Homo sapiens: one gene and its partner. The protein of the gene in region 2 interacts with the protein of the main gene of each other region in a pairwise test. Each region holds a gene or a part of one and is shown on either strand. Other genes may lie near its edges.

The links. Proteins that work in one complex are often made in the same cells at the same time.
Region 1: the proteins of FLNA (region 2) and CAMK1G interact in binary tests that used the Homo sapiens proteins (3 or more experiments, as listed by UniProt).

What each region holds. Positions count from the first base shown.
Region 1 is NC_000001.11:209,582,167-209,585,912, reverse strand, and holds the start of CAMK1G (calcium/calmodulin-dependent protein kinase type 1G), read right to left. Parts: upstream 2,200-3,746; 5' UTR 2,141-2,199; exon of another isoform or gene 1,981-2,140; intron 1-1,980. UniProt on the Homo sapiens protein: Calcium/calmodulin-dependent protein kinase belonging to a proposed calcium-triggered signaling cascade. In vitro phosphorylates transcription factor CREB1.
Region 2 is NC_000023.11:154,353,989-154,357,634, reverse strand, and holds part of FLNA (filamin-A), read left to right. Parts: intron 1-11; coding exon 12-201; intron 202-360; coding exon 361-384; intron 385-2,562; coding exon 2,563-2,810; intron 2,811-2,923; coding exon 2,924-3,019; intron 3,020-3,151; coding exon 3,152-3,254; intron 3,255-3,343; coding exon 3,344-3,484; intron 3,485-3,591; coding exon 3,592-3,646. UniProt on the Homo sapiens protein: Promotes orthogonal branching of actin filaments and links actin filaments to membrane glycoproteins. Anchors various transmembrane proteins to the actin cytoskeleton and serves as a scaffold for a wide range of cytoplasmic signaling proteins.

The sequences.
Region 1 (3,746 bases), on a different chromosome or scaffold from region 2:
GCGCCTGCAGTTGTAGCGCCAGGCACGCAGCCTGTTTGCAGACTCAGCCGCTCCCCTCATTCATGCTGCAGCTCATTCACTCGCTGGCGCTGGCAGGCTGCGGCTGGGCGCCGCCACTCGCGCGCACTCGTGTGGCAATTTATTTCTGGCCCTGTGTGCGTGTGTATGGGGGAGAGGGAGCGAGGGAGGCGCTCTCCTCTTAGAGGGGGATGCTTTTTCACTTCCAGGTAGAATCGCTCCCAGGCTTTATAGTATTCGCTGCCCTGGACCACGCACCTGGGTGGGGCACCGCGCTAGGCACTTTGCATGCATTATCTTGTTTAATGCCCCACGGCCACCTTTCCAGGTAACCTCATTTTACAGCTGAGGTACTGATAAGTAGAAATGTTCAGAAAAATCCCCCACATCAAACAGATAGTGAATGATACAACTGAATTGGATTCCAACGCTAGTCTTCTCGTCACTGTACCACATAACCTGTTGCCTCTTTCCTGGTGGCAGTTGCTGGGATGTCACTCATCTCCACCTTCATCCTTATGATGCTGTAATGCAATCCTAACGTCTGACTGATTACCCTGGGAACACATGGCTCGGACAATCTTGAAAGGGCTGAATCCCTAAAGCACTCAGATTTCTCAGCATGGAGGCTGGGGACAGCATGTCTATTGCCCCAAGCCTCTCATGGTTCCAGCTCAAACCATTTCTCACTCTAACCTCAAGCTTCTTTCCCAAAGAGTACTTTCTGAAGAGTGCTCTTAATAAGCATCCACACACACACACACACCAGAGCAATCTGCAGCATCGTGGAAAGTTCACTGAATTTATCAATAGATCTGGGTTCAGTTGCCACCACCATCACCAGCTTTGCAACCCCAGGCAAACCCTTTAACTTCTAAGCTTCAATGGTCTCATCTATACTAAAGGGGAAATAATACATGCCACACCATCTGATGGGATCGTCCTAAAGATGATTAATTATAAACACATTATAAACTGTAAAGTGTGGTCCCCATATCAGGTATTACTAAGCACTCTGTGTTACGGCCTGTTTCAGAGGTGGGTCTCATCTTTGGTTCTGGTTAAGCTTGGGTCAGCAGGAATGACAGGGACCTTGTTCTGTCTTCAGCTTATGATCTGGAAAAGATCATCTTCTTACCTAAGGCGGAATCTGCTTGACTCTCTTGACCCTTCTCAGAGGCTTTCCTCATGATCAATTTATCTGACTCCAGAGCAAGAGGCTGGCCAGACAAGCACTGCAGCCAGACCAGCGTGAGCCCTGGCAGCCATCTCCGGGAGCCTCAGGGTTAATGTTTGTGCGTCAAAGTTACGTGGAGAGAAGGGGCCATGGTGTGGATGGGGGTGGTGGTGGTGGTGAATCCAGACCTCCTTTTAAGATCTTCACTTGAGAGGTAAACTAGGGAAGTTTAAAAACAGAAGGGAGGTAGACGCGCCCCTGGGGAAGGTGAAGGAAGCTGTCTTGTGACTGACAGCGATAGCTCGGCTGCGTTCTGCATCTTAACGCGGCTGAGGATAGGGAGCCTGAAGCCTGTCCACAGACTCCTCCAGGAGGGACTGAGGCTGACTCGTCTTCCTTAGGCTTGCAGAGCCACAGGCTGTTTACAAATCTTTTTGCCATTGGTTCTGCTAATCCTCCCAATAACCCAAAGAGGTCGGCAGAGAGGGCATACTTTATTTGATGGATGGGGTCAGAGAGGTTAAGAGATGAAGGTTGAGCAGGAGGGAGGGGTGCAAGAGAGTTGGAGGTCCTAACACCCCAGCAGATGGACGGGGTCCCTCTAGGCACAGAGCCTTGTCCCTAGAATGCAGGCATTGCAGGAGGGGCACATGAAGATATTTTTCTCCCTTTTCCCTGCCCAGAAGGGCAAAATGCTTCCATGAAAGCCAGCCCAGGAGTGACGGACAGATAGCTCCACCCGGACCCCCCATTCAGACTTATTTTCCAAGACAGCTATAACTCACCCTTGATGCCAAAAGAGTCAGGGAAGACTGGAACTGGGGCTGAAATAAATGCCCAAGTTGCTTACAAAGTGGCTCTTCAAATCCACTCACTAGGTGCTGCACGCTTCCCATTAAGCAAGGAGACCCTCTAAAGCCAAGAAAAGAAGCAGGGTTGTCTTACCCAGGGACTCGGGAAGAATCCTGCTTGAGCTCCCACTCCAGCTCCTACAGGTCTGTGAGGATTAGCTGCTCCAGTGCTTTAACAATAAACCCAATTAAAGGGGAGGAATGCAGGAGTTTTCTTTCCCAGGACCGTAACCACGCAGCCTTAAAGGGGAGTAAAAGTAGCTAGGGTGGCTTGCATCTCTCTTTCCTTTCCTCGGCTCTGCTCACCCTCCCTCCCAGCGTGCAGTAATGAGTCTTATCCAGAAAAATGCTTGTGCATTTTTGCCTGGTGTGTGTGTGTGTGAGTCTGTGTGCATGTGTATGTGAAATTGTGTTTGCATTGATGTGTGTGATGGAAAGACAGAACGGAAGAATGAAAAACAAAAACATCAAATTATAAGTTCCCATTATCCTGAATGGGTGATGACAGAAAAAAATCAGAGAAGCTTTCTAGGATTGTCTGCCTCAGTTTCCTTTTTAACCCCTCAGGTGCTGGTGTATGTTGTCTAAAAACACCTCCCTGAAAAACAGAACATCTACACTGGCTGACATGTAGGGACTGAAGACAGTGTCCACCTTGCTTGTTATCTCTTACAGAACTGGGAGAAAGGGCCTTGGATGTCCCAAAAGGGGCCCCTCAGTTGGACGGTCTCACTCAGTATCTTTGATATGTCTCTTTTCCTCCAGAAGCTCAGCATTCTGGTCCCCAAACCTGTCTCAGTCCTAACCTATGAGACCCCAGGAAATCATTCCCCTCCTCCGGAAACTCTGTGCTCCCTCTGTTTCCTGTACTCATCTCTCCAACCTGGCCCTTGACCAAGGCTTCACAGTCTCCATCTTAGCTTCTCTGGGGCAGTCCCTTTAGTGCAGATTTCTTTAAACTCTGTCATCTGCTCTCTTGTTTTCTCCTTCTCTACTCTCTCCTTAAGGTTACCATCTACTCACAGAGTCTATTACCATCTTCATAAGAATCTCCTCAGTCAACACCCCACCTGGGTTATCATGCTCAACCTCAACATCCAAATGCCCACTGTCACCTACAAACAAGGCTGAATGTGTTATGGCCACCCTCAAACCCACTCTCCTGTTTTCCCCAACTAGGCTAATGAGCTACCATCTTCCAAACACTCAACTGAGAAACTCCAGGGTTTGCTTTGTTTGTGTTGCCTGTTTAATTTGTCTTCCAAACCCATCCAGCTCTTATGCACTTCCATTTGTTCCTTGAAATTAGCTTTTAACTTGTACCATTTCTTTTGTGTCATCTTGTTTTTTGAATAAATAACATATTCATATTGGCAAGAAAATGACCATATTAAAAGGCATACATTGAGATGTGTTACCCCCTTCTACTCGTTATCTGTCCCTTGACCCTGACATTGCCCTCTATAGGTGACCACTTTTATTATGGTATTTCTTTATGCAAATACAAGCAAATATTCACCTCTATGATCTCAGTTCAGGCCTTCAACCTCCCACCCAGGTAGAACTGTGATAGGATAGGGTGAGATGGTGCAGTAGGATAGTTAAAAGTGGCTCTGGGGAAGACTTCTAGGTTGGATTCCTGGGTCTTCCATTGACAGATATGTGGCCTTGGGAAAGTGGCTTAACCTTTCTATGCCTCA
Region 2 (3,646 bases):
CTGCCACACAGGATCCCGAAGGCAAGCCGAAGAAGACACACATCCAAGACAACCATGACGGCACGTATACAGTGGCCTACGTGCCAGACGTGACAGGTCGCTACACCATCCTCATCAAGTACGGTGGTGACGAGATCCCCTTCTCCCCGTACCGCGTGCGTGCCGTGCCCACCGGGGACGCCAGCAAGTGCACTGTCACAGGTGAGCCCGCCCGCTGTTGGCCGCTGCGGCGCTCGGCACGGGGCTTGGGTTGTGCCTGTGTGCAAGGGCTCGCTGCTTGGGGCGGCGTGTGGGAGTGGGGGCCGCCCCCTTGAGTGACTCACCTGACCTTTCTCCTTGCTCTCTGCCCTCTCACCTCAGTGTCAATCGGAGGTCACGGGCTAGGTAAGCTGCTTGCTGGGGCCACTCCCAATGCCCCTCCTGCCCAGAGGGGCAGCTTCCTTTCCTCTTGGGGCCGATTCCCAGGACAGTTCCAGCTGCAGCTCTAGGCAGGGACAGAGTTGGGTGGGGTGCAGAAGATGAGGCCGTGGGCTGGAGGGCGAGGGCCCAGGGAGGCTTCCGGAGCTGAGCATGACCGCTCCAGCTCTTCCCCTCTCTGGGCCTTTATTTCCCCATCTGAGAACTCGGGTTGCAGCTGAGAGCTTTGGGGTGAGGTGCATCCTGAGAGGCACCCCACTGGGGACTTTGGGGTCTCGGGATCTTGGCACCCAGGGAGGCACAAGGGCTCCTGCGTGGGCTGAGGGAACAAGGGGTCTCCCCAACTCAATGGGAGCCCCAGCCCTGGCCAGATCCACAGACCCCCATCCCCACCTTCCAGGGGCCTCTGCGTCCCGGGCCGGGGGAGGTGCATGAGCGGGTGGGGCTGGCTGGTAGTGCAGTAGCGCCAGTGTCGACTGCTTGGGCGGCCAGCATGGCGGGGCCCGGCCCAGCCTCAGAGCCCCAAAGTGCATTCTGTGGCCCGTCTCCCTCCTTCCCCCTTCCCCTATCCCCCAGCAGTGACGTTATTCAGACATTCCCCAACAGGCATGGAGGGTCACCTGCCCCAGCCAGGGACACCCAGGGATGCTGATGAGAGGCTACAGGCCTGGCACTTGGGCGAGGTGGCTAAGGAAAGGGTGAGAGGGTGGCTAGAGTTTTGCGGCAGGAGCGAGATGGCTTTATAGAGCAGGCCGTAGGATCCGATGTGTGTGTGACAGGCGTGTGTGCGCAGGGCGGGGGAGGCTGGGGAGTACTGATTGCAGGGCCTTGGGGGCTTTGAGGGTGGGAGCAAGACTCAGTAACCTCAGTTTCCCTGGCTACTGTTTGCAGAATGGAGACAGGGAGCCCGGGGTGGGGAAGGGGGCGCTGAAGTTGCTCTCTGGCAAGCTTGACGGCCACGGGGCTTCAGTGAGAGCCAAATTAGGAGGCATACTTTGAGGATGGAGTGGCTGAGACCTGCGGTTGGCTGGGAGCCGGGCAGGGAAAGTGGGGGCAGTCGGGTACCTGTGAGGTTGGGGCCCAAGCCACTAACTAGATGGCATGGGGTGCACATGAGTGAAGCCTCCCAGGGCAGCGTGGGCAGCCGGCAGCCAGGTCTGGAGCCTGGGAGAGCTGCCTGGCCGCGGCAGGCCAGCATGGAGCCTAGTGCAGCAGGAGCCCTCGGCCGATAGTGGGACTTGGTGGCAGGGCCCCTCGAGCTTGGCCTTCAAGTAGGTTTCGTGCTCCTGGCTGCTTCCCTGGCAGGAGGCCAGGCTGCAGGGGGCACTCTCACTGCCAGGCCTCACAGCCCACAGCCCCCCAAGCCTCCACGGCGGAGACCCAGATCATAACGTCACTGTCTCTCCCCTTTCCTCGGGCACTCTGGGGCCCTGGAGCCTGCTCAGCTGCTCTGCCCTCGCAACCCAGCAGTGGTGGCTGTAGCTTGGGCCTCCTGTTCCCTGTCTCCCTGGGTGCTATCCCCGCTCTGCCAAGCCTGCTGCGCTGCGCTACTCGGGTGCTAACCCCGCTGCCTCCCGCTTCCCCGCTCCCACTCCTGTCTGCACCGGGCTGCTTTTCACCGCGAGCCTTCTCAGTTGTCAGGAAACTCCGGTTTCACCATCAGGCCTGGGGGGTGGGGAGGCAAGTGTCACATCCCCCCACGCTGCAGCAGGACTCCGCCTCACCGCGTCCACACACAGCAATGGGGGCCGGGGCCAGGCCAGAAGGGCGCAGGCAGCCGTGTGCCCAGCCAGATGCTGGCGTTCAGCAGTGTGGGCCATGGTGCTGGACGAGGCTGAGTAGGCAAGGGAGTGGCTGTCAACACTTAGGCTGGAGTGGGCCCTTCCTTTTCCTCCCAGGCACCTGGGTGCTACTGTCGGGCCTCTCCCACATGGGCACTTGAGGTGGTCAGGAGAAACCTTCCTGCCTTCTGAGAAACCACTCGCCATCCCAGCTTGGAGGGGCAGGGCGGGGCAGGAGGCCTGGCGGCCTGGCTGTGCTTGGTGGTGGCAATGAGAGGCCTGTGTGGGCGGCAGGCGGACGGGAACAACCTGAACCCGAGCTCACACGCTGGCCCCCCTTTGGGGACCCACCCTGCCCCACCAGGTGCTGGCATCGGCCCCACCATTCAGATTGGGGAGGAGACGGTGATCACTGTGGACACTAAGGCGGCAGGCAAAGGCAAAGTGACGTGCACCGTGTGCACGCCTGATGGCTCAGAGGTGGATGTGGACGTGGTGGAGAATGAGGACGGCACTTTCGACATCTTCTACACGGCCCCCCAGCCGGGCAAATACGTCATCTGTGTGCGCTTTGGTGGCGAGCACGTGCCCAACAGCCCCTTCCAAGTGACGGTGAGGAGGGGTGGGGGGTAGGTCAGCAGGGGTGTCTGGCAGGTCCCGGCCTGTTCCCCTGGGGCCCCTCTGTGACAACAGACTCTCCAGCAGCTCTCTGCTTTGCCCTGCAGGCTCTGGCTGGGGACCAGCCCTCGGTGCAGCCCCCTCTACGGTCTCAGCAGCTGGCCCCACAGTACACCTACGCCCAGGGCGGCCAGCAGACTTGGGTACGGCCTGGCCAGCTAGGGACACTGGGGCTAGCCAGCTGGGTGTTCTGTGAGCCCCTAGTTTACCATGTGTGAGGAGGGACCCCAGATCCTCCCACTGTCCCTCACCCATGCCCTGTGTCTCCACTGCAGGCCCCGGAGAGGCCCCTGGTGGGTGTCAATGGGCTGGATGTGACCAGCCTGAGGCCCTTTGACCTTGTCATCCCCTTCACCATCAAGAAGGGCGAGATCACAGGTGAGTGGGGACTTGGGAAGGAGCTCGGGAGCCAAGGAGGCCAGACTGTGCCAATGAGCTGCCCTGACCTCAGCCCCACTGCCCCACAGGGGAGGTTCGGATGCCCTCAGGCAAGGTGGCGCAGCCCACCATCACTGACAACAAAGACGGCACCGTGACCGTGCGGTATGCACCCAGCGAGGCTGGCCTGCACGAGATGGACATCCGCTATGACAACATGCACATCCCAGGTGGGCCTGCCCTGCCTCTGCCCACTCCACCGCCACCACCTCACAGAGAGATGGGGCTGGGGGACACACGAGGCTGCCATTCCACAAGGCCCTTCTTCCTGCCTCAGGAAGCCCCTTGCAGTTCTATGTGGATTACGTCAACTGTGGCCATGTCACTGCCTA